3 linked regions of the Homo sapiens genome follow. The protein of the gene in region 3 purifies or fractionates together with the protein of the main gene of each other region. This does not show direct contact. Each region holds a gene or a part of one and is shown on either strand. Other genes may lie near its edges.

Region 1 (8,519 bases), on a different chromosome or scaffold from region 3:
TGCCAGGTAGCCTGATTGACATCCAGGCAGTCTTGTGGGGTCTCAGGGACTAAGGGCTTGCAGGTGGGTACCAGTTCTCCACATACTGCTCCCTCCAAAGCCTGGGAAACCTTGCACCCTCAGCCCTCTGGGAGACTGGGGTCAGGGGTACAGTGACACTCTTTACCTTTAATGTCTTTATTAATACAGAAAACATACACTAATTTCTCACAATACCAAAATAAATTAGAATTTGGGCCGACTGCTTCTAACACTGTTCATTAAAATAGTATTTAGTTATTCCCTGCTCAAAATGATTCATGATACAAATTACTTCCACCATCACTTTATCTTTTTTTATGTTTCACGGGATAATTTGACCCCTAACAAAATCCAATCCTTGCGTTAAGGATTTTTCTTATCTGGCTAGGTTATAATTAGAGTGGGAAAATATATTTACATTTCATCAACAGCTTATTTTAAGGTGATTTTATCTGTTTAATTCTCAGCTTTGTTCCAAAGAGGGGGAGGTGGTGACAGTCTCTTGCCCACTGAAGCGTGCCAGACAGAGTGCTAGGCATGGGGGCAGAGGTGAATCAGATGACAGCCACCTCTCACCACGAGGAGTGGCTGAAAGTGTGACTGGACTACAGGCAATCCTGGCCTTGGCAGGTGAGACCAAGTGTTGTATTGAGGGAGGGTTTCCCTAGCTCATCTTCTGGTCACCTCCACAGCTGAGCTCCACTGTGGCCTGGAGGAAACTGTGATCCATGAAAGGCATGTGGGGCCTGGTCCCCTCATTTTAGCTCAGCTTCCAGGACAGAGAGGTCCACTCCCTGCAGCCTTACAGCTATTCTGAAGGGTTGGGATAAAAAGAGGAGATGGAGACTGGGAGCGGCGGCTCACGCCTTTAATCCCAGCATTTTGGAAGTCCGAGGTGGGTGGATCACCTGGCATCAGGAGTTCCAGACCAGCCTGGCCAACATGGTGAAACCCCACCTCTACTAAAAATATGAAAAATTAGCCAGGCATGGTGGCAGGCACCTGTTATCCCAGCTGCTTGGGAAGCTGAAGCAGGAGAATCGCTTGAACCTGGGAGGTGGAGGTTGCAATTAGCCGAGACCATGGCATTGCACTCCAACCTGGGCAACAAGGGCAAAACTCCGTCTCAAACAAACAAACAAACAACAACAAAAACAACAACAACACAAAAAAACCAGAAAGGAGGAGATGGGAGAATCAATGGGAAAGACCAGAATACAGAGAATGTTGCCAAATGCCAATTTACAACCTTAATTTCCTGACCAGATTTGACCCTTTGGTGTCTGTGGCTCTCCTGCCACTCACATACATGCTGGTGGCCTTCCTAGAAAGGAAATAGGAGGGCCTCCCCATCCCTGGTCCTGAGGGATGTCATTCTAGGCATGTTTTAGACTGGACGCTTAAGGCTTTTCCTTCTTGTGCCCTCCACATGGCTTCAGGAAAGCTTGTGCTCTCTCTGAACCCTGCAGCATGTTTTCAGAGGCTGTCGGTTGCCAGATTCTGCAGTGAGCTGTGGATGGGAGGGAATTCAATAGTGGGTGGGTGTGCAGACAGAAAGGGAGCAGGAGTGGGGCTCTGCCTTCCCTGTCATGCAATCATATGGTGACATGAGTAAAACCCAGGGAGAAACAGTTTTCTCTAACCAATGTTCTCCTTGAGGTTCTCTTTCTCTTGTAAGTGCTAAGTACTGCTCCTTTTCCTGGAGTCCAATTCCTGAAAGAGGACAAATGGGCCAGGAGTGGTGGCTCACGTCTGTAATCCTAGCACTTTGTGAGGCTGAGGCAGGCAGATTACCTGAGGTTAGGAGTTCGAGACCAGCCTGACCAACATGGTGAAACCACGTCTCTACTAAAAATACAAAAAATTAGCTGGGTGCAGTGTTGCGCGCCTGTAATCCCAGCTACTCGGGAGGCTGAGGCAGGAGAATCGCTTGAACCTGGGAAGCGGAGGTTGCAGTGAGCCAAGATTGCATCACTCACTCTAGCCTGGGTGACAGGGTGAGACTTCGTCTCAAAGAAAAAAAAAGAGAAAGAATACAAATGGCCAACAAATACATAGGAACATGATCTACCTCATTCGCAACCAGAGAAGCCAATTAAGATGGTGATAATACCATAATGAACAGTTTGACAATTTTAAATGTGCATAATCCAGCAATTCTGATTCTAGAAATGTATAAAATCATTGAATCAATGTGTCAAGGTAAGTGTGTTAGGGTATTTTTGAATCACTGATTCTAACAGATGTCCCTTAGCATGGGGTTGTTTAATAAGTTATAAAGCATGTATAGGCTGGAATGTCACATAGATTAAGGAGCTGGTCGCCTCATTGTTTCCTCCCTGTTTCACCAAAACCCATATGGTCCTGGCCTCATCTCAGCCCCTGGCACCCCTGACTCTCATGGCCAAACGCTGGACATCCTTGCTGTGGGGGCTGAGAACAACCCAGGGACAGTACCAAGAATGTGAGGGAGGGTAGGGAGGCACTGAACCAGCAGCTCCTCCAAAGGAGTGATGTGCTTCCTGAGGTCTATTCACAGAAGGCTACTCCAGAACAGCCTTCTGTGGATCCTAGCTATTCTGGTGTCTGAAGAGGGTATGGTAAACCTCACTGGGTCTGGCTGAATTCCTGAATTCCAGGCAGTGAGGTAAAAAAAAAAAAAATTCTGCCCAGCATCTGGGTCTTGAGGTGGATGCTGTTGTTTGGGGAACCCAGCACCCATTCTCCCTCTCCCTGGCAATAATGTCAGTGTTCCTTTGGGCAAGCACTGTTTCACACTTCCAGCCCCTGAAGTTCAGGTGAGGCTGGCTCTACTCCTTGGTTCTAGATGTAGCTACTTCCAAGCAAATCCCCAAGACTTCTGCTAGCATTACCAAGAAGAGTTCTCTTCCTCCACTTAAGCCCTCCAAGGACGTGTGGGCAGGGTGGTGGAGACACAAGCCACAAGAGAAAGTGCAGGAATCCTGTGTTAGCAGTGGCTGAGCTTAGGCCAGGCCAGAGAAGGAGAGGGAGGGGATTCTGGGCCCTGGAAGGAGAGTCATATAGAGGAGGCTGCCCTGTTGAATGGACGGAGGTGACAATTTCCAAGGTTTCCTGAGGCAAAAAGACCAAGATAAGGCTGGGGCTGGGGGGAGTTCTGTGCAGCAGGAGCCAGGTGGTAAAGACAGAGTGGAAGAGAAAGCCAGTATGGATTTTATTCTAAATGGCCTTTGCATAAGAGCCACCATAGAACAGTTTTATTTATTGATTTTATTTTTATTAATCCTCCTCCAAACACAGAACACATAATTTTACTGTTTTTTTTTGTTGGTGGTGGTGGTGGTAGGTTTGTTTGTTTGTTTGTTTGTTTGTTTGTTTTTAGAGACAGGGTCTTACTGTGTCACTCAGGCTTCAGTGCGGTTGGCAGGATCATAGCTCACTGTTACCTCTAACTCCTGAACTCAAGCGATCCTCTAGGATTGGCCACTGCACTCAGCCTAGAGTTTTAATTGGGATAAGTCAGTAGTCTGATTTGTGTTTTTGGAAGATAACTTTGGATCCAGGCTGGAGAAATGTATCGGACACGGGGACAAAGTCAGAAGTAGAAAAAGCCCTTAGGAAGAGGAGGTGGTATTCTTGAGGAAGGGGGTAGTGGAGAGGGACAAAGTGGGAGAGTTTAGGTGCTCAGATAAAAGGCAAAGCGCTGGGAAGAGTGCGGTGAAACTCTGGATAGCTTGGGCTACTCCACTTCTCTGAGCCTCAGTTTCCTCTTCCAAACAGAAATAATATCCACTTCATGAGGTTATGTTTGACAAGTGTAGTAGCTGAGAGTATTGTTTTTAGTCAGGTCTGGATTGGATCTCAGGTCTGGCAGGTAACAGCTGTGTGACCTTATGAGAGTCAGTTAATGATAGATTGTAGCCTTTATGGAGCACTTGTTATGTTTCAACCAACAGAACTCTCCCCAGACTAGGATACTTATTCTAGCTTCCAGGAGGGTGAGGGGGACGGGGGGTTGTGGTGAGGAAGTATTGTGGAGACAGCAAGCCTTTTGTCCAAAGTCCTACTAGTAAATGTGGAGCCAGGATTTCTCTGTCACGTTCCCCTAACTTTTCTGCGCCTAAAACTGGGATAACAATAATACACTTCCTTGTGTGGTTGGGCGTATACAGAAAGGGGTCTGGCACATAGCAGGTGTTTATTAAATTATTATTAAAATTATTATTATTACATTCTTTGTGTTTTCCTCAGGTTTTGCATAGAGTGAGCATCACTTGGACAAATCCTTTGGATTAAAAAAAGATCTACTAAGTGAGGGGGAAGAAACTGCGGCTGCCAGAGTCTCAGTGGGGGCTTGGGGGGCGTGACCAGAGGGGCGTGGTCTACGGGGGCAGGGCCACAACTGGAGGGCCAGGCTGTGGGGGCGGGGCCAGCACACGAGGACTGAGGGTGGGGGCGGGGCCCGGGCTGGCAACGCATGCCCAGTGCGGTCCCCTTCGCTGCCGCCGCGGCCGCCGCGGCCACCGCCCACTCGGGGCTGGCCAGCGGCGGGCGGCCGGGGCGCAGAGAACGGCCTGGCTGGGCGAGCGCACGGCCATGGCCCCGTGGCTGCAGCTCTGCTCCGTCTTCTTTACGGTCAACGCCTGCCTCAACGGCTCGCAGCTGGCTGTGGCCGCTGGCGGGTCCGGCCGCGCGCGGGGCGCCGACACCTGTGGCTGGAGGGTAAGGCGAGGGCGGCGGGTTTCTTGCCGTCGCCAACTCGCGGGGGACGCAGCGCGCACAGGTGCTCGCGGGGAGGCGAGCCCGCGCCAACCTGTCTGCTCTTCGCGGGGTCCGCGGCCGGCCTGGGTCTCACTCCTCCCGCGCATCCTCCTGGTTTCCCTCCCCGGACGCGTGTCCTCCGGCCCTGGCCGAGATGAAAGCGGCTGCCCGACCCCGGCTTTGTGTTGCTAATGAGGTGCGGCCGCCGGCCGGGGTCCCATTCAGAGGGCGGGCGTGAGGGGCGGCGGGGCTGGGCCGGGCGCCCCACCCTTTGTTCTTGGCCCGGGACCTCCTTCGTCCCAGGGCTGCGTGTCCCGGGCTGGGATCCCCCGAGCCACCCGGACCGGGTTGCGCTTTGGAGAGGGAAGGGGGTATTCTCCCGGACTTTCAGTCCACAACCCTGCTAAGGCCCGGGCGGCCGGAGAGGGGACTTGGAGCACCGGGGAGGGATGCGCCCCGCTCTTCTAGTAGCTTTGTTCCTCCTCGCCTGGGGCCGTCACCCCACTCCTACCCCTCCTCTGACTCCGGGACCTCCTGAGAAACTTCGCCTCCCGGTTCAGCCCTTCGTCTTGTGAAGGTCTCGCGGCTGATATCCTCCTTCCCTGCTTCGAGTTGCGGATATTTTTCCGCCAAAGGGCCGCGTGGGTGTCATCTGGGTGAGGTGCCTGAGACGAGACTGGAGAGGTGCCCAGACTTTCGCCGTGTGCATTGAGCCGTCTTCGTGGAACCGAGCGCTCCTTTGACACTGTCTGGGCGATGGGCGCGGGTGATTGCCATTCCCCTCTCAGCTTCCCTGCTCCCTACCTGGGCTTCTGGCCTTGGGCGGCCCCAGAACCTGGAGATGATGTCCGTCTGCCCCGAGTCTCCCACCGAGGCCCGGGTGGGCCCGGCGTCAGGGCACTCACGGCCTTAAGCTTGTGGAGAAAACGTAGGCTTTGCACTCAGGCAGCAGGGACATGACCTTGGCTCTGCTCCTGGGGAGCCATGAGCCTCAATTTCTTCATATGAAAAATGGGATGAAATGAGAATTTCCTTAGTATTGCTGGGCTGAGGGATAGGTATGGAGTGGTTTGCTTAGGCGAACGTTGACTCAGCCTCTTCTGGGTGGCTCTAAACAGCCTCAGCACAGCCAAAACCTAGGACATAACACTCCCTTAGGCACGCAGGCTGGTGCCTCCAAGCTCACTTGCCCCACAGTCCCAAGAAATGTGGTGCAGAAAACCAGGTGTGAGCCAGACAGCTGGGATGTCTTCAGACTCAGTAGCTAAGCTATGGAGACGGCTATGACCCCTGCTCTGCCTCCGCCCCCGCCACCCCCTTCCCCCCCCGCCCCCCCGCCCCATTAGGCTCTGTCATTCCTTCCTAGTTGAGTAAAGCATCACATTTTCTTACTGTGTTCCATTTCAGTAAAACATTACTGCTCTTGTTTTATTGTTTAAAAAAATTTTAGTAGCTAGCAAGTTTCCTCAAGGAGGATCTCGTGTTGACTTAAGGATCCTACTAGAATTTTGGATTTAGACTCCTATTGGCTTTTGAATGACTACAATATCACAGGCGTTTTATTTTGAGTGTTCATGTGATGGCGTAGGTAAATCAGTCCGATTCACTGTTTTGCTGCAGTTGCCAAGGTGGCTTCTTATGCCACTGTACAAAACTCGTGAAGTTTCCATGCTGTGGGGTATGGTAGTGCCCTGACGGAGCCAGGCTGGTGATTTTCTTCTACCTGTGCGAGTGTGTTCTCCTCTCCCAAACCTGCACCCTCATAAAATGGTGGCTCTGTCCCAGTCACCTCACACTTATGCTGACGTTTTCTCCACCACAGCCCCTAGTTGGGGGTGACTTTTCTCAGCTGCTCCTGCCTTGGCCCCACCAATCGTTTCCTTGGGTCATCCTCATTCGCCTCCTGGACGATCGTAGAGGCCTCTGGGCCATGTTCCAGATTCCAGGCTCATCCAGGCTGATACATGGTTCCTTGTCTCCTGGATTTGCTGCTTGGTGGATTTCATGGACCCAGTTTCCCCACATGCTTTGCATTCCCACCCTTTCCAGCCTCACCCCCTACCCTTCTCATCCTGCTCCTAACTCCGGATGGATGCCCTCTGTGCTTCCAAGACATGCTTTTCCCTCCTCCCAGGATGCCTTTTCCTCCCTTGAGAATTCCTTGCCTATCTTAAGACTCAGTTCAGGTGGTACCTCCTCAGGGAAGCCCTCCTGAATGCCATGCCCCTTGCTTTACCTTCTCATGCAGGTCCTTGCACTTTAGTCTCATCAGACAGCTTTGTCAGTATTTGTTCACTTCTATGTCTTCAGACTAGTTTCTTTAGCCAGGCACTGAACCTCATCTTGGTGGCGTCAGAGCCCTGTAAATATTGGCTGAACCAAATTAGACCCTGCTGCCTTCCTGCTAAATCCTGTATTTCCTGATAGATTTTAAGAAGTAGAGGCAAAGATCAGGGCATCAAGGTCCATTGTCTTTGCACATGCTGTTCCTGCCTGTGTTCCTTTACACCTCTGCAGCTTCCTTTCTCGGCCCTAGCATCACTTCTGCAAAAAATTGTCCCTGTCCACACCTCCCTAGGTCATGTCTTCTAGAAGTTGCTCTGTCAGGGAGTCAGCTAGGAAGTACTGGTACACAGTGACTAGAGTATTTGATTCATGTTTGGGTCCCCTACCAAATAAGAGGTACTTAGTCCATAGATGTTGGCCTCAGCTCTAAGGTTGCTTACAGTGGGGCTGTAGGAACATAAAAGGATAAGGGTCGACTATATGTGATGCAAATCAGAGGAGGCTTTCTGTGGGCCTGGGCCATACTCAGAACCTGAGAGGGGGCAGCAAGGTGCAGCACCAAGTCCTGAGAAACTGGATTTAGGTGCTGGAGCAGAGCTGAGCAAATGACCCCCTTGATCTCCAGGCAACATTTGTTTCAGGAACCCTTGCCCTTGCAGGAATGTGTATTTTTGCAAGACTTGCAAGGTGACTACAGCCAGCCAACCCTCTGCAGCCCTGCTAACAGACCCTTCGGGGCTGCTCCCAGAGGAGCCATGGGCTGGCCTGGTTTAAGTGGTCAGGTTTCACAACCTCCCCATTATTAGTGGGGCAATTAAGAGGCTGATACCATCTTGAACACAGGTCAGTGTTTTAGAAATGAGTTGTGGGCACACTTCCTCAACTACTTAAAAAAAATTCTCTTAGGGTCCTTGCCAGGTAAGGTTGCTCTTTGAGTAATAAATACTGTGTTCACACAGAAGTAATGATTTGTAAAACCTCCAGAGGGACCACACCATCCTCATTTACACTGGCTCTTGCTTCTAGAGTGGAATGGTTTTGTTTGCAACTAGAAGCAAGTTTGGTTCATAACTTTAATTGTGTCAGTCACTCATACTGAAGTTCTCCCTCCCCTTGTCTTGCTGGTCTAGAAGCCTTTTTATGGAACAAGGAGTTAGGAATCTACTCCCACAGGTTTGTATTTAGTGGCTTTTCCTGCAGTGGGGGAGGAGGGAACATTTCTTGCCTCCTTACCTAAATGGGGTCCACCTTCTCTGGTCTATTATCCCTGGAACATAATTCCTACTCCCCCTGCAAGAAAACACTACTCCTTCAGGAATTCGGGAAGCCAGGATGCTGGCATCATCTTTACAATGAAATGCAAGTTTCCCATTTAAGGCAAATACTTCATCACAAAAGGTAGGAAGGAATAGGGTGGTACTTGGAAAAGAGAAGTTCCAGCTGGTTAAAATTTAGGTTCCTGATAAAAGTCC
Region 2 (8,483 bases), on a different chromosome or scaffold from region 3:
ATCGTATCCTTCTTGCAGTAGAAAAGCTGCCTTATTTCACAAGTTGAGATGTTTGCACGTGTGTGCAGTCAGGTTCTCTGAGGGTGTCTGTGTTCTGTGACATTCACAAGAGCTCCATCCAAACCTTTGCAGTTGCTCAGTGCTCTTGCCAGGAGGTTAACTTGGCTTCCTCACTAGCTGAGGGACCGGCCCCTGGGATTCAAATCCATTCCTCAGCAAAATGCCAAATGCCCACAGCTTAGACCTGTGGGGCTCACTCTCCATGGAGAGTCAAAATAAGAGTTGAACCAGCCAAATGCCCAAAGTCTAGGGCAGACCACTTTTGTTGAAGGAAGGGTTGGAGCTTAGAATTTCACCACCCAAGGGGTCCGGTCAGAAGGAAAATGCCTGCAGTGGCTTTGTGATGAGAAAAAGCAGAAAAGCCTGGGCAGGGAATGGGCTCTGGGCTGGGAGTCGGAGAACTGAGTCACCAAGCTCTGCCCCTATGTGATCTGCCCTGTGTGATCTTTGGCTCTCTGAGCCTGTTTCCCTGTCTGTGAAATGCCACTGCTATGAGATGACCTAGCTAGTTGGATGTTTCTATTTTGGTTGGATTATATTCTTGACCTGTAACTAGTTCTTTCCCCTGCGGAGTATGAAGCTCTTCAGAGCCCATCTGAAGCTTTCAGGAACGTCACGTCAGAAGAAATACTGAAGATGATTGAGGAGAACAGGTACCCTGACTTAAGCAGATGGGGATTCTGGGGAGTGCTGTTGGGACCCAACAGTAGTCAGACACTGTGCAGGTCCTCTGGGCGTCAGTCAGTGAGGAAGTGTGTCTGGAGCATTGGACATGAATGAGCCAGTGTTTTCTTGAATGTTTGGGCTTTCAGGAGCTGTGGGTCACATTCGAGGGAGAGGGCTGGTCTCTGAGTCCGTGGGACCTGCGACAGGGCAGAGGGTGGTGAGGCCTTCTACTCTGGGGCTGGGAACTAGAGCTGGCCTGTGTCACCCAGTGTCATGCTGGTGCTGATTGTCACTGGCAGGGCCCAAATGCTGGCCTGGGAATGGGTGCTGGCCAAAGTGATGGTTTCTCTGTGATGATATGGTAGGCAAACTTTTCTAACATTAAATTTATGTATTTAAAATATTGTATATTTTAAATAATTCAGAGATTATTTCCTTCTCCCTCCCCTTTCCCATTAAAACAGCTTCTTTTATGATAGTGAGTTTTTTTTGCTTTTGAGTTTTTTCTTTTAATAATTTTATTTTGATAAAGAGTTGTCAATCTGAGGTTTGTTCCTCCAGTTTTTGTTTTAAAATTTTACTGGTCATTGAAATCCAGTGCCTTGGAATTATTATTATTATTTCTTTTTTTTTTTTTTTTTTTGCTTCAAAGATTTATTTCCAAAAAAGAGCTCATTACTAGTTCATAGTTGTCTTAATGTGATTGTGACTCAGGGGCAGGTGCAGGAACGAACTCTGAGCGGGGAGTCTGAAAACTGAGTCCCCGAACTCTGCCCTTATCTTCCCTTCTTGAAGCCTCAGTTTTTCTATCTGTAAAATGAGGCATCTATGAGATGATCTTGAAGAGCCTTTTTATCTCTGTGAGTCCAGGGTCTTGCTAGCAGTAGAGCAGTGCCTGAAAATAATAGTTAGCATTGACTGAGCCTTAACATTTTTGCCAAGCACTGTTCTAAGAGCTTTACTGGCATCATCTCTTAATCCAGAAAAAATGCTCAGGAGGAGAGTACCTGTACTATCATTGGCCCCAATTTATAGATGGAGAAACCAGGGCACCAGATACCAAGAAACTTGCCCCGCTGGGCACGGTGGCTCACACCTGTAATCCCAGCACTTTGGGAGACTGAGTCGGGCAGATCACCTGAGGTCGGGAGTTCAAGACCAGCGTGACCAACATGGAGAAACCTCATCTCTACTAAAAATACAAAGTTAGCTGGGCGTGGTGGTGCATGCCTGTAATCCCAGCTACTCAGGAGACTGAGGCAGGAGAATCGCTTGAACCCAGGAAGCGGAGGTTGCGGTGAGCCAAGATTGCGCCATTGCACTCCAGCCTGGGCCACAGAGTGAGACTCAGTCTCAAACAAACAAACAAACAAACAAAAAAAGAAACTTGCCTAAACCATTAAATGGCAGAGAAAGGATTGAAACCCAGGCAGGCTGACTACAGAGTCTATGCTCCTGACTATAAAAACAGAGGTCAGAGGTTAGCAAACTACAGCCCACATGCCAAGTCTGGCCTGCTGCCTGTGAGTAAGTAAAGTATAAATAAAGTTTTATTGGAGCACAGCCCTGTTCATTTACGTAAGTAATATCTGTGCCTGCTTTCGCACTACGATGGCAGAGTCAAGTAGTTGCAACAGAGGTTGTATGGCCTCCAAAGCCTAAAATATTTACTGTCTAGCCCTTTATTCATCCCTGCACTGAACCATGTTCTCCTATTATAAGGAGTGTTGAGTGTACTGGCCCTTCATCAGCTGCTTTTGTTCGTTTGTTTTTTTTTGTTTCTGAGACAGGGTCTTGCTCTGTCACCTAGGCTGGAGTACAGTGGCGCAGACAGCTCACTGGAGCCTCGACCTCCTGGGCTCAAGTGATCCTCCCGCCTCAGCCTTCCGAGTAGCTGGGACCACACACATGTGCCACCATGCCGGCTACGTTTTTGTAGAGATGGGGTCTTGCCTTGTTGCCCAGGGTTTCATCAGCTGTTGAGTGCGTCGGGGTGAGAGGCGCCTGCTGTTCTCGTTGTAAGAGGGAAGTAGTTCCTGACAGAGCCCATCTTACCCTGACACAGGCCTCCTTTTCTTTTCCTTGTTTTAGCCATTGCACCTTTGTCATAGAAGCGTTGAAGTCTTTGCCATCAGATGTGGAGAGCCGAGACCGCCAGGCCCGATGCATATGGTTTCTGGATACCCTCATCAAATTTCGAGCTCATAGGGTAGTTAAGCGGAAAAGTAAGTCTATGATAAACATTTTATTCTAATTGTTTCCAGTATATTATTTGTCTGTAATTCTTAGATGAGTTCTGATGAGAGAAGAAAATGGATATGTCTGTCCAAGTCTTTACTGTCAACTGTGAGATTCATTCTGGTACTGCTGACATGTCGAGGGGACTTGCCAGGCCCCTTTTTCTCTCTGGATCTCCCATTTTCTCATCTGAAAATTGGGGCCACGTTGGATTATATGATAGTTCAGGGTCCTTCCAGAGCTAACATTTGCTACTTCTATTCTGCATGAGGCAAAGTAGAATATCCAGGTCAAATAAAAGGAAAACTTTAAGGGACTGTTAGAACAAACATCAGCCACGTGTGTGCGTGTGTGTGTGTATATATAGAGAGAGCTTATGAGTTACACAGATGTATCTTGAAGGCTTGTGGCAGGTTTGTGTTGTGTCAGCTTATTTCTAACAGGAGAGAGTCAATCTGATGGTAACCCAGTGTCACCTGTAGCTAGGATCCTTTGCGGGTCACACCCTCATACCTACCCAGAGTTGGAAACCCAGAAGATGTCTGTGGTTTTAGGCACAAGGTGTATTTAGTTGTTGTTACTGTGATTGGGCATCCAGTAGTCTATACTCCTGTTTTTCAGTATAGTCATGTGTCGCTTAATGATGGGGATATGTTCTGAGAAATGTATCCTTAGGCAATTTTGTCATTGTACAAACATCATAGAGTATATTTACATAAACCTAGATGGTATAGCCTACTACACACCTAGGCTATATGCTATAAGCTGCTGTTCCTAGGCTGCAAACCTATACAGCATGTTACTATACTGAATATTATAGGCAATTGTAACACAATGGTATTTGTATATCTAAATATATCTAAACAGAAAAGGAATAGTAAAACTATGATATTATAATCTTACGGGACTGGCTGGGCATGGTGGGTCATGCCTATATCTCAGCACTTTGAGAGGCCAAGGTGAGAGGATCACTTCAGGGCAGGAGTTTGAGACCAGCCTGGGCAACATACCAAGACACTGTCTCTACACAAAAATAAAAACATTAGCTGGGGTGGTGCACGCCTGTATTCCCAGCTATTTGGGAGGCTGAAGCAGGAAGAGTGTTTGAGCCTAGGAGTTCAAGGTTACAATGAGCTATGATTGCACCACTGCCTCGGTGACAGCAAGACCCTGTGTGAAAAAAATCTTATGGGACCACTGTCACATATGTGGCCTGTCATTGACCAAAACACTGTAATGTGGGACATGACTGTATTTGCTTAGTCATGCTTTTTTTGTTGTTTTTTTGTTTTGTTTTTGTTTTGTTTTTTTTGAGACAGTATCTCGCTCTGTCACCCAGACTGGAGTGCAGTCCCATGATCTTGGCTCACTACAACCTCCATCTCCTGGGTTCAAGCAATTCTGCCTCAGCCTCCCGAGTAGCTGGGATTACAGGCGGGCACCACCACGCCCAGCTAATTTTTGTGTTTTTAGTAGAGACGGGGTTTTTCCATGTTGGCCAGGCTGGTCTCGAACACCTGACCTCAGGTGATCCACCCTCCTTGGCCTCCCACAATGCTGGCTGGGATTACAGGCGTGAGCTACTGCACCCAGCTTGTATTTGCTTAGTTCTTTTTTTTTTTTCTTTTTTTGAGACAGAGTCTCGCTCTGTCGCCCAGGCTGGAGTGCAGTGGCTCGATCTCGGCTCCCTGCAACCTCCACCTACTGGGTTCAAGGGATTCTCCTGCCTCAGCCTCCTGAGTAGCTGGGATTATAGGCGCCCGCCACCACACCCGGCTAATTTTTGTATTTTTAGTAGAGACGGGGTTTCACCATGTTGGTCAGGCTGGTCTCGAACTCCTCACCTCATGATCTGCCTGCCTTGGTCTCCTAAAGTGCTGGGGTTACAAGTGTGAGCCACTATGCCCAGCCAGTTGTTTTTTGTTTTGTTTTGTTTTGTTTTGTTTTGTTTTGTTTTGTTTTTTTGAGATGGAGTCTCACTCTATTGCCCAGGCTAGGGTGCAGTGGCGCAATCTTGGCCCACTGCAACCTCTGCCTCCTGGGTTCAAGCAATTGTCCTGCCTCAGCCTCCCAAGTAGCTGGGATTAGAGGTTTGCGCCACCATACCTGGCTAATTTTTGTGTTTTTAGTAGAGATGGGGTTTCACCATGTTGGTCAGGCTGGTCTTGAACTCCTGACCTCAGGTGTTCTGCCTGCCTCGGCCTCCCAAAGTGTTGGGATTACAGGCGTGAGCCACCGCGCCTGGCCACTTAGTTCTTATTTTCACATTCCAATTCCACCTTTCCCCCTCTCTCCCTGAGCTTTCAGCACAATTTTTGTTTTCTAAGGTCATGTTAACTCTGGGTCCTTAGGCCTCAGGCTGTGTTTTCTTGTCATTGCCCCATCACCAGCATCTCTCGTGCAGGGCAAACTGCAGGCTGCAGCACACCAAGCATGTTTTCATTTTGATGTGGCTGTTCTGCTTTGTGTGGGCCCTGCTTCTCTTACCACCTGGTTCTGGTCATTGCAGTGGCCCAGCTGTTGGCCTTTTCTCTTAGCTCATGGTTGAGGTGTGGCCTGAGGGTTTTGAGAGAAAATGATCAAACTCAACTTTGTGTTGTAGGTGCTCTGGGACCTGGAGTTCCCCACATCATCAACACCAAACTGCTGAAGCACTTTACTTGCTTGACCTACAACAATGGCAGGTCAGGGGGTGGTTGCTGGGATTTTTCTTGTGCAGGAGAAAGTAGGTGGGGGTTGGGAGTGAGGAGCAGGGGCTTGGACTCAATTCCATGTCCACGGAGATGCAGTGCTGAAAAGACTGCTGCCATTTGGAAGGCTCCTGGGGCCCCAGTAAGTTTAGCAAATGCTAAATATGACATACTCTGCCCTTCTTAGAAAAGTATTACCTTTTGGGAACCTTAGAAGCTCTGGGAAGTCCTACAATAAAGACTTGTTTTACTTCACATACTTTTGAATAGCCCTTCCCGATGTCTCACAGAGCTGGTGTTCTGCGGAAAGGCAGCATTGCAGAAAAGGGCAGCCCAACTCGGTGACTCTGGGGAAAGACCCGCAGGCCCTGCCCCTGGGCTTCCTTCCTGCCATTTGCATGGCGTGTGTTTTCTGCTCTTGAGTGTGCTTGGAAGAATCAGCACAGCTGATTTCGGGATGATTGTTTTCCCAGCAGCCCTGCTGGGCAGGCGGGGACAGACTCACAGGGCCCTCACCAGCTCAAAGCGCTAGCAGTGCCCAGGTAGAGTGTAGGCCCAGCTTTCTCTATCTGCCTCAGAGGGAAACATGGACTGGCACACTGCTCCACTGTGTGTGAGGCCCAGGAACCTTGGAAGGGCAAAGTCACCCACATTCCTTTTCCTTTCCTGAAGTTGGGAAGACATTCCGTGCATATGAGAATAGGATTGGATGTTCTTATTTTGCTTTTGGAGAAATTGTCTGAGAGTTTAATTTTGTTTCTCCTTTATTGCCACTGATTTTCTAGATTACGGAACTTAATTTCGGATTCTATGAAGGCGAAGATTACTGCATATGTGATCATACTTGCCTTGCACATACATGACTTCCAAATTGACCTGACAGTGTTACAGAGGGACTTGAAGCTCAGTGAGAAAAGGTGAGCACAACAGAATAAAGAGCTCCCTGCAGGGTGTCTCGATGTCTTATTTCTGGTACCACTGGAAAGCATGAGGCACCACCAAGGGAACTGAGGATGTTTAAATGTGGGAACAACTTGGAACTAAAGGACTATTTTCAATGAATGAATCATTGACTGAATGAGCAACTAGACATTACTGAGTGCCTTCTCTGTGCTAGATAAATTATGTCATTATCTCACTGATTTCCCTAGAAAACAATTGAAGAATCAGGCTCAGAAAAGTACGTAACATTCTCAAGGTTACACAACCAAGAGGGGAGTAGTTGGCCTTGAGACCTGAGCCTTTCCATAACATTCTGTTCTGAATAACCAGGCAGCCTCCATTCTCTGAATTGCTGTCACAGGGGAGAGGGATTCTGTATGGTTCTGAGGAGTGCAGCTCAGGGTGGAAGTTGTAGGACAACCCAATTTGAGCTTAGTAAGAAGAGCTTCCTCACAATCAGATGGAAGGGTTTGCCAGGGGAACCGCTGGTTCCAAGGCCAGGTGGAACTGCTGTTTGGCAGGGATTTTATGTTTGCACTTCTCTGACCCAACTGGGAGAGCTGGTGGTGGAGGTGACCTTTTAGGCTCCATCTAGCCTTGTAGAGGAGATTCAGACAGTAGGGGCAGAGCTGCCCAGGAACCTGAACTGTGAGGTCAGCTGATCTTTGTCAGTGATTTAGGGGCATCTGACATCCAGTGGCCCAGAGGGTGTCTAGGAGAGCCTGTGAACACACCTCTGTCTGGACTCTCTAGCAGTCCGTGGAGGGACTGTTCTGAGGGCTGTCCACAAACTGTGTTCCCACAGGCAGTGAGGCTGAAAAAAAGAGAACAGGTACTTGGAACCTGTCAGATTCTAGCAAGTGCTCAATCCTGGTTGCTAAAAGTTTGGTTATGGGAGGTAAAGAAAGTTGCTCACGGGGCTGTAGATACCCTGGTTTTTCATCACCCATATGGATCTTTTGAAGGGCATTAAAATGAAATTGGCTGTCTGATGGTTCCCAGCGGGTGAGGGGACCTTGCCTGCCTCTCTGCCAGGGGCTTTGTGCCTGCTGGCAACCTTTGGGATTCTGTCTTTATGGCCTGGAGCATGAATGTGCTGCTACCTTTTGCCAAACCTCCCTGAACAGTCATGTTGAGGGGTCTCTCCAGTTCTTCTGTTTATGTCTTCCTTAGGATGATGGAGATAGCCAAAGCCATGAGGCTGAAGATCTCCAAAAGAAGGGTGTCTGTGGCCGCCGGCAGTGAAGAAGATCACAAGCTGGGCACCCTGTCCCTCCCGCTGCCTCCAGCCCAGACCTCAGACCGCCTGGCAAAGCGGAGGAAGATTACCTAGACGCATGCTTTCCAGACAGGGCGTTTTGGCTGCATCACAGCCACTGGCTGGTCCTATTCATTTCCATTTTTATGTATGTTTTGAAAAGAAAAGGTCCGGGGATGGTGGCTCACACCTGAAATCCCAGCACTTTGGGAGGCCGAGGCAGGAAGATCATTGAGCTCAGGAGTTTGAAACCAGTCTGGACAACATAGGGAGACCCCATCTCTACCGGAGGAAAAAAAAAAGAGTCAGGCCTGGTGGTGTGCGCCTGTAATCCCAGCTACTCGGGAGGCTGAGGCAGGACGATTACTTGAGCTTGGGAAATCAAGGTTGCAGTGAGCTATGATTGTGTGGCCACACTCCATCCTGGGTCACAGAGTGAGACCTTGTCTCAAAAAAGTAACATAAGGAAAAAAGAAGCCTTGCTTTAGCACAGGTATGAAGCCAGAAGCCAGCATCTCAACTGTGCTTGTCTTATGCAGAAATATAAAGCGATGGCCAGGTTGGACTTCATCTCTCTCCTTTGGTATTATTGCTGTGATTATAAATGGCAGATGTTTCTCATGTTGGTT
Region 3 (5,223 bases):
GGCGAGAGAGTGAGACTCTGTCTCAGAAAAACAAAACAAAAAAAAAACAAAAAGCGATTTATCTAGATGAGTTGTTCTAGAAAACCACTGGGCCAGCCTTAACTTGGCACTTGTATAAGGAAGCAGGATTTTTGCTTATTATGGTTTCTAAAATAACTAGCAGCATCATGACCATCTGGGATTGTCTGGTCCCTGAAGTCTTGGTTGACTGAAACCAGATTAGTTGTTTTTCCTAGACTTACTTTTCAGCAAATTACTACAGAAATATAAAAAAGAGAGTTCCAGAATATTACGGTTTCATTTCCATTTGGATATACTGTATCTAACTGACTTGTGAGTCTTTGTAAAGTTTAGAAACAATTTCACATGAAAATGGAAAGATGAAAAACGGTAGTTCAATACTCCATCGACATGAGTGAATGAACTCTTATACAGAAAGAGCCACATTAGTTACAGCATTTACATAGAGGGTTGTTTTTTTGTTTTGTTTTTTTCTTTTTTTTTTTTTTTTTTGAGACAGAGTCTTGCTCTGTCTCCCAGGCTGGAGTGCAGTGGCGCGATCTCGGCTCGCTGCAAGCTCCGTCTCCCAGGTTCAGGCCATTCTGCCTCAGCCTCCCGAGTAGCTGGGACTACAGGTGTCCGCCACCACACCCGGCTAATTTTTTGTATTTTTAGTAGAGATGGGGTTTCACCGTGTTAGCCAGGATGGTCTCGATCTCCTGACCTCATGATCTGCCCACCTCAGCCTCCCAAAGTGCTGGGATTACAGGCGTGAGCCACTGCACCCAGCCAGGTTTTTTTTAAATGTAATTATTTAAGCTGTAGTTTTCACTTCTTGGTTTTGGGTAATAGATCTTGTGAGAAAAGATCCAAACCAATTTTGACTTCTGCCGAAGTATTTAACTTGACTTTGAAATGTGATCTTTGTTGACAGGTCAAAGAAATTCATTGATCCTATTTATCAGGTGTGGGAAGACATGAGTGCTGAAGAGCTACAGGAGTTCAAGAAACCCATGAAAAAGGTCAGTTTGTGATTGATTGAGCACACTCTCGGAATCTCCTTTCTGGTTCCAGGTCACAGTGAGATAGTAAGTGGCAAGTCGTTCGTGCGTGTAATCCCCGCACTTTAGGGGGTCAAGGCCAGAGGATTGCTGGAGACCAGCCTGGGCAACACAGTGACACCCTGTTTCTACAAAAATTTTTTTAATTAGCTGGGCGTGGTGGTGCACACCTGTAATCCCAGCTCCTCTGGAAGCTGAGGTGGGAGGTCAAGGCTGCAGTGAGCTGTAAATGCAGCATGGCACTTCATCCTGGGCAACAGAGCAAGACCCTGTTTTCTTTAAAAAAGCACACCAAAACCGTGTCTTACTCATTCTGCCTTTATAAAATTCCAGGCCCAGGTTTTGTTGTTATTTAAAGAGTCTATGGCTTTTTTGGATAAATTGCTTAAACCAGACACTTCACATACTGACATGTGAGAAGCGAAGGTTAATTACAAATTAGCTGAATGAATTTAGATCTTTGCCACTTGCGCATTCTTACCAAGTAACAATCTCCAGTTGACTCATGTTGAAATTGCCCCAGCAGTTTACATTAGTTTTATAGATCTTCATGAATGGGTGGTGAAGACGCAGGTTGCAACATACCCTCCAGGTCACATGAGGTGGAGCTGAGACAGTTACAGTTAGAGAGGAAAGTTAGAATCCAGTAATAAAGAATTTCGCTGCTCTGTTGCTTGGGAGCACATTTGTTTTCTCATTAAAAGCAGCTTCAAGATGGCTTTTTTGTTGTTGTTTTTAATAAGTAATCATTGGAAAGCCCCTTTCATCTTTTTCTTTATGTTTCATTTGTTGAGGGGCGTGTAATTCATTCACATTGTGTTAGGTACAAGAGTTCCTAACACTGGGCAAGAATGACTCGTCATGTTTCCTGTCCCCATTGAGCTTCAAATCTGTTTGCAAGTCAGACTTGAAACAAATGATTACAATGTGTGATGAGCAGTTATGTGGGTATGTTGGTAAGAAGGAAGTGCTTATCAGAGGGAGCTTTTGTTCTGTTCTGTTTTTCTAGAGACATGGTCTCGCTATGTTGCCCAGGCTGGATTCGGAACTCTTGAGCTCAAGCAGTCCTCCCACCTCCACCTCCTGAGTAGCTGGGACTACAGGCGTGTGCCACTACACTGGCTTTCTTTTGAAATTAAGATATTTTCTTCACCATCTTTACAAACGTTAACACCTTCCTGAGGAAGGAATTGTTGAAAGCTTTTCAGTCAGCACTGGTGATGTTACTGATGATTTCTGATGTTTCTGCAGGACATAGTGGAAGATGAAGATGATGACTTTCTGAAAGGCGAAGTGCCCCAGAATGATACCGTGATTGGGATCACACCAAGCTCCTTTGACACGCATTTCCGAAGTCCTTCAAGTAGTGTGGGCTCCCCACCCGTGTTGTACATGCAACCCAGTCCCCTCTGACGGCAGAAATTTGTGACTGAGATGTGACATTTGGGATTCCCCATCACTTGTCATGCCCTCAGCACCCAGCTTGTGCCATTGGGCATTGATGGCATTGAACTAGAGCGAGTGCCTGCCTCGGCTGTGGCACTTCCAGGTTCGACTGAATCAAGCATCTGAAGACTGGGTTTTTTTGTTGTTGTTGTTCCCCTTACAGACAAAATGAAGACTATCATGTGCAATCTTTTACAGTGGGGTTGATGATACATTTGGAAGGATTTGCTTGTTTAATATGTACATTTTTTGTGTTAACAGCTTTTTGACACAATTACTGGGTAATTTCTAATATAGGCAGCAGACTGTTTTACGGGTTGCTGTTTTAACATGGGTTTTTGTCAGATCCATGGTCTTAGGACTTGACTGATGAGCTTTCAGTGAAGAATCCTCTAAGATAAAACTTCTATTTAAAGACTTTAACTAGAAAGTGTTTATTTTGGCTACATTGTTCACCTTCTGCTGTATTGGTATTTGTCTGTTGGGATTTCAAGGGAGTGTAGAGAAGACAGAAGGAAAGCTGAGAGCTGGCCCGACATGGTCTGGGACACAGAGTTGGAGCTGGCACTGAAGATCTCCAGGGACTTCAGAGACCAATAAAAGCCCATAGGGAAGAGAGAGAGGATATAGGGAAACAGAATCAGATGTGTAATATACTTGGCACAGCGAAAAAATGGATTTAAAAGACAAAAATGGAGGTCCAGGTAGATGTAATTCACACAGACTGAAAGTGAGTTCGGGCTTGTGTAAAACACATGAGATTGGATTTGACCCCTTGGCTCTCAAGTGTCCCCTTAGATCTAGAACTGCTCCTTGGTGGCCATTAGATCGAGTCAGTTTTGATCTGCATCACTTAGTTATTGGGAATTTCTTTGTTGGAAACAGGAAAATTTTTTTAGATTATTTGGTGTACGGTTTTGCTCACAACAATAGGTGGAAGTTGCTAGTGCAGTCTTGGTCTGATGGCTGTGTGCATCGCACATTCGGCTTGGTGAAATCCTTCTCTAAAGCCTCTTTTTGTATTTTTATAACTAAACAGAGGAAGTCTTCAGAAGACCTCGCTTTAAAACAAATTTGTGCAAACACTGCTAGAGTCATTTTGAAGCTCAAGCATTTTCACTTTGTTTCTTACATGTGTACTTTTTTGTTTACTTGTGAAAATGGCCATCTTTAAGCATATTTATTTTCTGCCACTTTATTTAAAGGCAAGCAATATTTTCTTGATCATAAATATTTTGTAATGAAATACTTCCTCTTTTCCAGGGCTTTGTATGCACTTGTATAATTACATTGATGGCAATGTAGAGTTTGAATTTCAGTCTGTAAATACTTTTTTGGAAAATAGAAATTTTTATTGCTTTAAAGTTTTGGATATGGGTGGTTTTCTTTTCCGGGTTTGGTGGAAAGTAATTTGAGAACTTTAAGGTTGTCTTTTTAACTGCTGGCAAAATGTTGATTTTTTAATATTAGATAAAACGAGTAAACGAAATTCCCCAGAAATTAGTAGTAAGTGGGGTCTTTGTGGGTTGGGAAGTAGTTTTAATGTAGAAAGACATTTACATATAAGTCTGTTTAATTTCAAAGGAGTTTGTGAAAAAAAATCCATGGTGAAAATGAAACAATGACATGGTTAATCTGGAACTTACGTTCTTATACCAATAAAAGGTACCTCAATACATGTTCTTTCAATTTCTGTTTTGTTTTTTTTTTTTTAATTTAATGTATTAAAGCATTTTGCAGTGGAAAACTCCTGAGGCATTGCTGTTGAAGAGGGAGAAATAGTGCTGGTGTGGCGGGGAGCTTGATGGAATTCATTGCATGCCGGGGTGAGGATGGTTTCCGTGTGCACTATATGAAGTATCCGCGACTCTCCTTAATCACACCCAGCAAAGAGTGATTGAGGCTTGAGCAGGTCCAAGGGAAGCAGACACTTCTTTCAAAAAGTTACATGCTTTGAAGGGACATCTATGGGGAAAAATACTGTGAAATCTCCTTATAAATTACATGCCAACAATGGGAATTTTTCCTTTCACTAAAAAGCTGTCAGTTGTAGGAGTCTCCAGGGTCTGTCCTTTTGTCTGTGTGCTCTGGTTTGGTCTTCCTTGATGAGAAGTGGCTGAATTTTTACAAGTCAACTTACCAAGTGCCATGGGCTTCCTTTCCTAGCTAGCTGTTTGACGTTGAGCAAGTTACCTAACCTCTCTGAGCGCTAATTAAACTGTAAAATGGGAATAAGATACTAGTGTAAGGCTTTAAGGATTCGATGCATGTACAAGTTAATGGCTGTTGTTTTCTTGCAAGAAAGGAAGCACTTCCATGGGAAGTTTTTTTTGGTTAAAGATAACTTCTATTTCTTCCATAATACCTACCTCCCTGGTACCAACTTAGATCTGAACTGGAGAGGAGGAACCAGCGTGTTTCCCTTGCCGGGCAGTGCTTACGATGGTGGTTCTTAACCCTGGCTGTGCCCTAGAATCAGTCCCTTGGAGTGCTGAGAAACTAAGGATGCCCAGGCTCACGTCACACACCAACTCAACCTTTGATTGAATCAGTCTCCAGAAGAGGGGTCTGGACATGGATGGTTTTTAAAGCCCCCTGGTGATTCGAAGGTGCAGGCTGCCTTGAGAACTGTTCATTGGTGTACAACTGCATACTTTTCTTGTTTCAACTAATTGAACATCCAAAGCTCCACCATGTTTTCTTCCATCAAATGCTT

What was found.
Region 1: the proteins of RRN3 (region 3) and IL17RD purify together in Homo sapiens (co-immunoprecipitation; 2 studies listed by BioGRID and IntAct, with this or other methods). This does not show direct contact.
Region 2: the proteins of RRN3 (region 3) and POLR1E purify together in Homo sapiens (co-immunoprecipitation; 2 studies listed by BioGRID and IntAct, with this or other methods). This does not show direct contact.

What each region holds. Positions count from the first base shown.
Region 1 is NC_000003.12:57,161,364-57,169,882, reverse strand, and holds the start of IL17RD (interleukin-17 receptor D isoform a precursor), read left to right. Parts: upstream 1-4,529; 5' UTR 4,530-4,596; coding exon 4,597-4,722; exon of another isoform or gene 4,723-4,915; coding exon of another isoform or gene 4,916-4,957; intron 4,958-8,519. UniProt on the Homo sapiens protein: Feedback inhibitor of fibroblast growth factor mediated Ras-MAPK signaling and ERK activation. Regulates the nuclear ERK signaling pathway by spatially blocking nuclear translocation of activated ERK without inhibiting cytoplasmic phosphorylation of ERK.
Region 2 is NC_000009.12:37,495,274-37,503,756, forward strand, and holds the end of POLR1E (DNA-directed RNA polymerase I subunit RPA49), read left to right. Parts: coding exon 1-3; intron 4-616; coding exon 617-713; intron 714-2,817; coding exon 2,818-2,951; intron 2,952-5,566; coding exon 5,567-5,648; intron 5,649-6,439; coding exon 6,440-6,571; intron 6,572-7,769; coding exon 7,770-7,929; 3' UTR 7,930-8,424; downstream 8,425-8,483. UniProt on the Homo sapiens protein: Component of RNA polymerase I (Pol I), a DNA-dependent RNA polymerase which synthesizes ribosomal RNA precursors using the four ribonucleoside triphosphates as substrates.
Region 3 is NC_000016.10:15,058,995-15,064,217, reverse strand, and holds the end of RRN3 (RNA polymerase I-specific transcription initiation factor RRN3), read left to right. Parts: intron 1-934; coding exon 935-1,022; intron 1,023-2,312; coding exon 2,313-2,474; 3' UTR 2,475-4,185; downstream 4,186-5,223. UniProt on the Homo sapiens protein: Required for efficient transcription initiation by RNA polymerase I (Pol I). Required for the formation of the competent pre-initiation complex (PIC).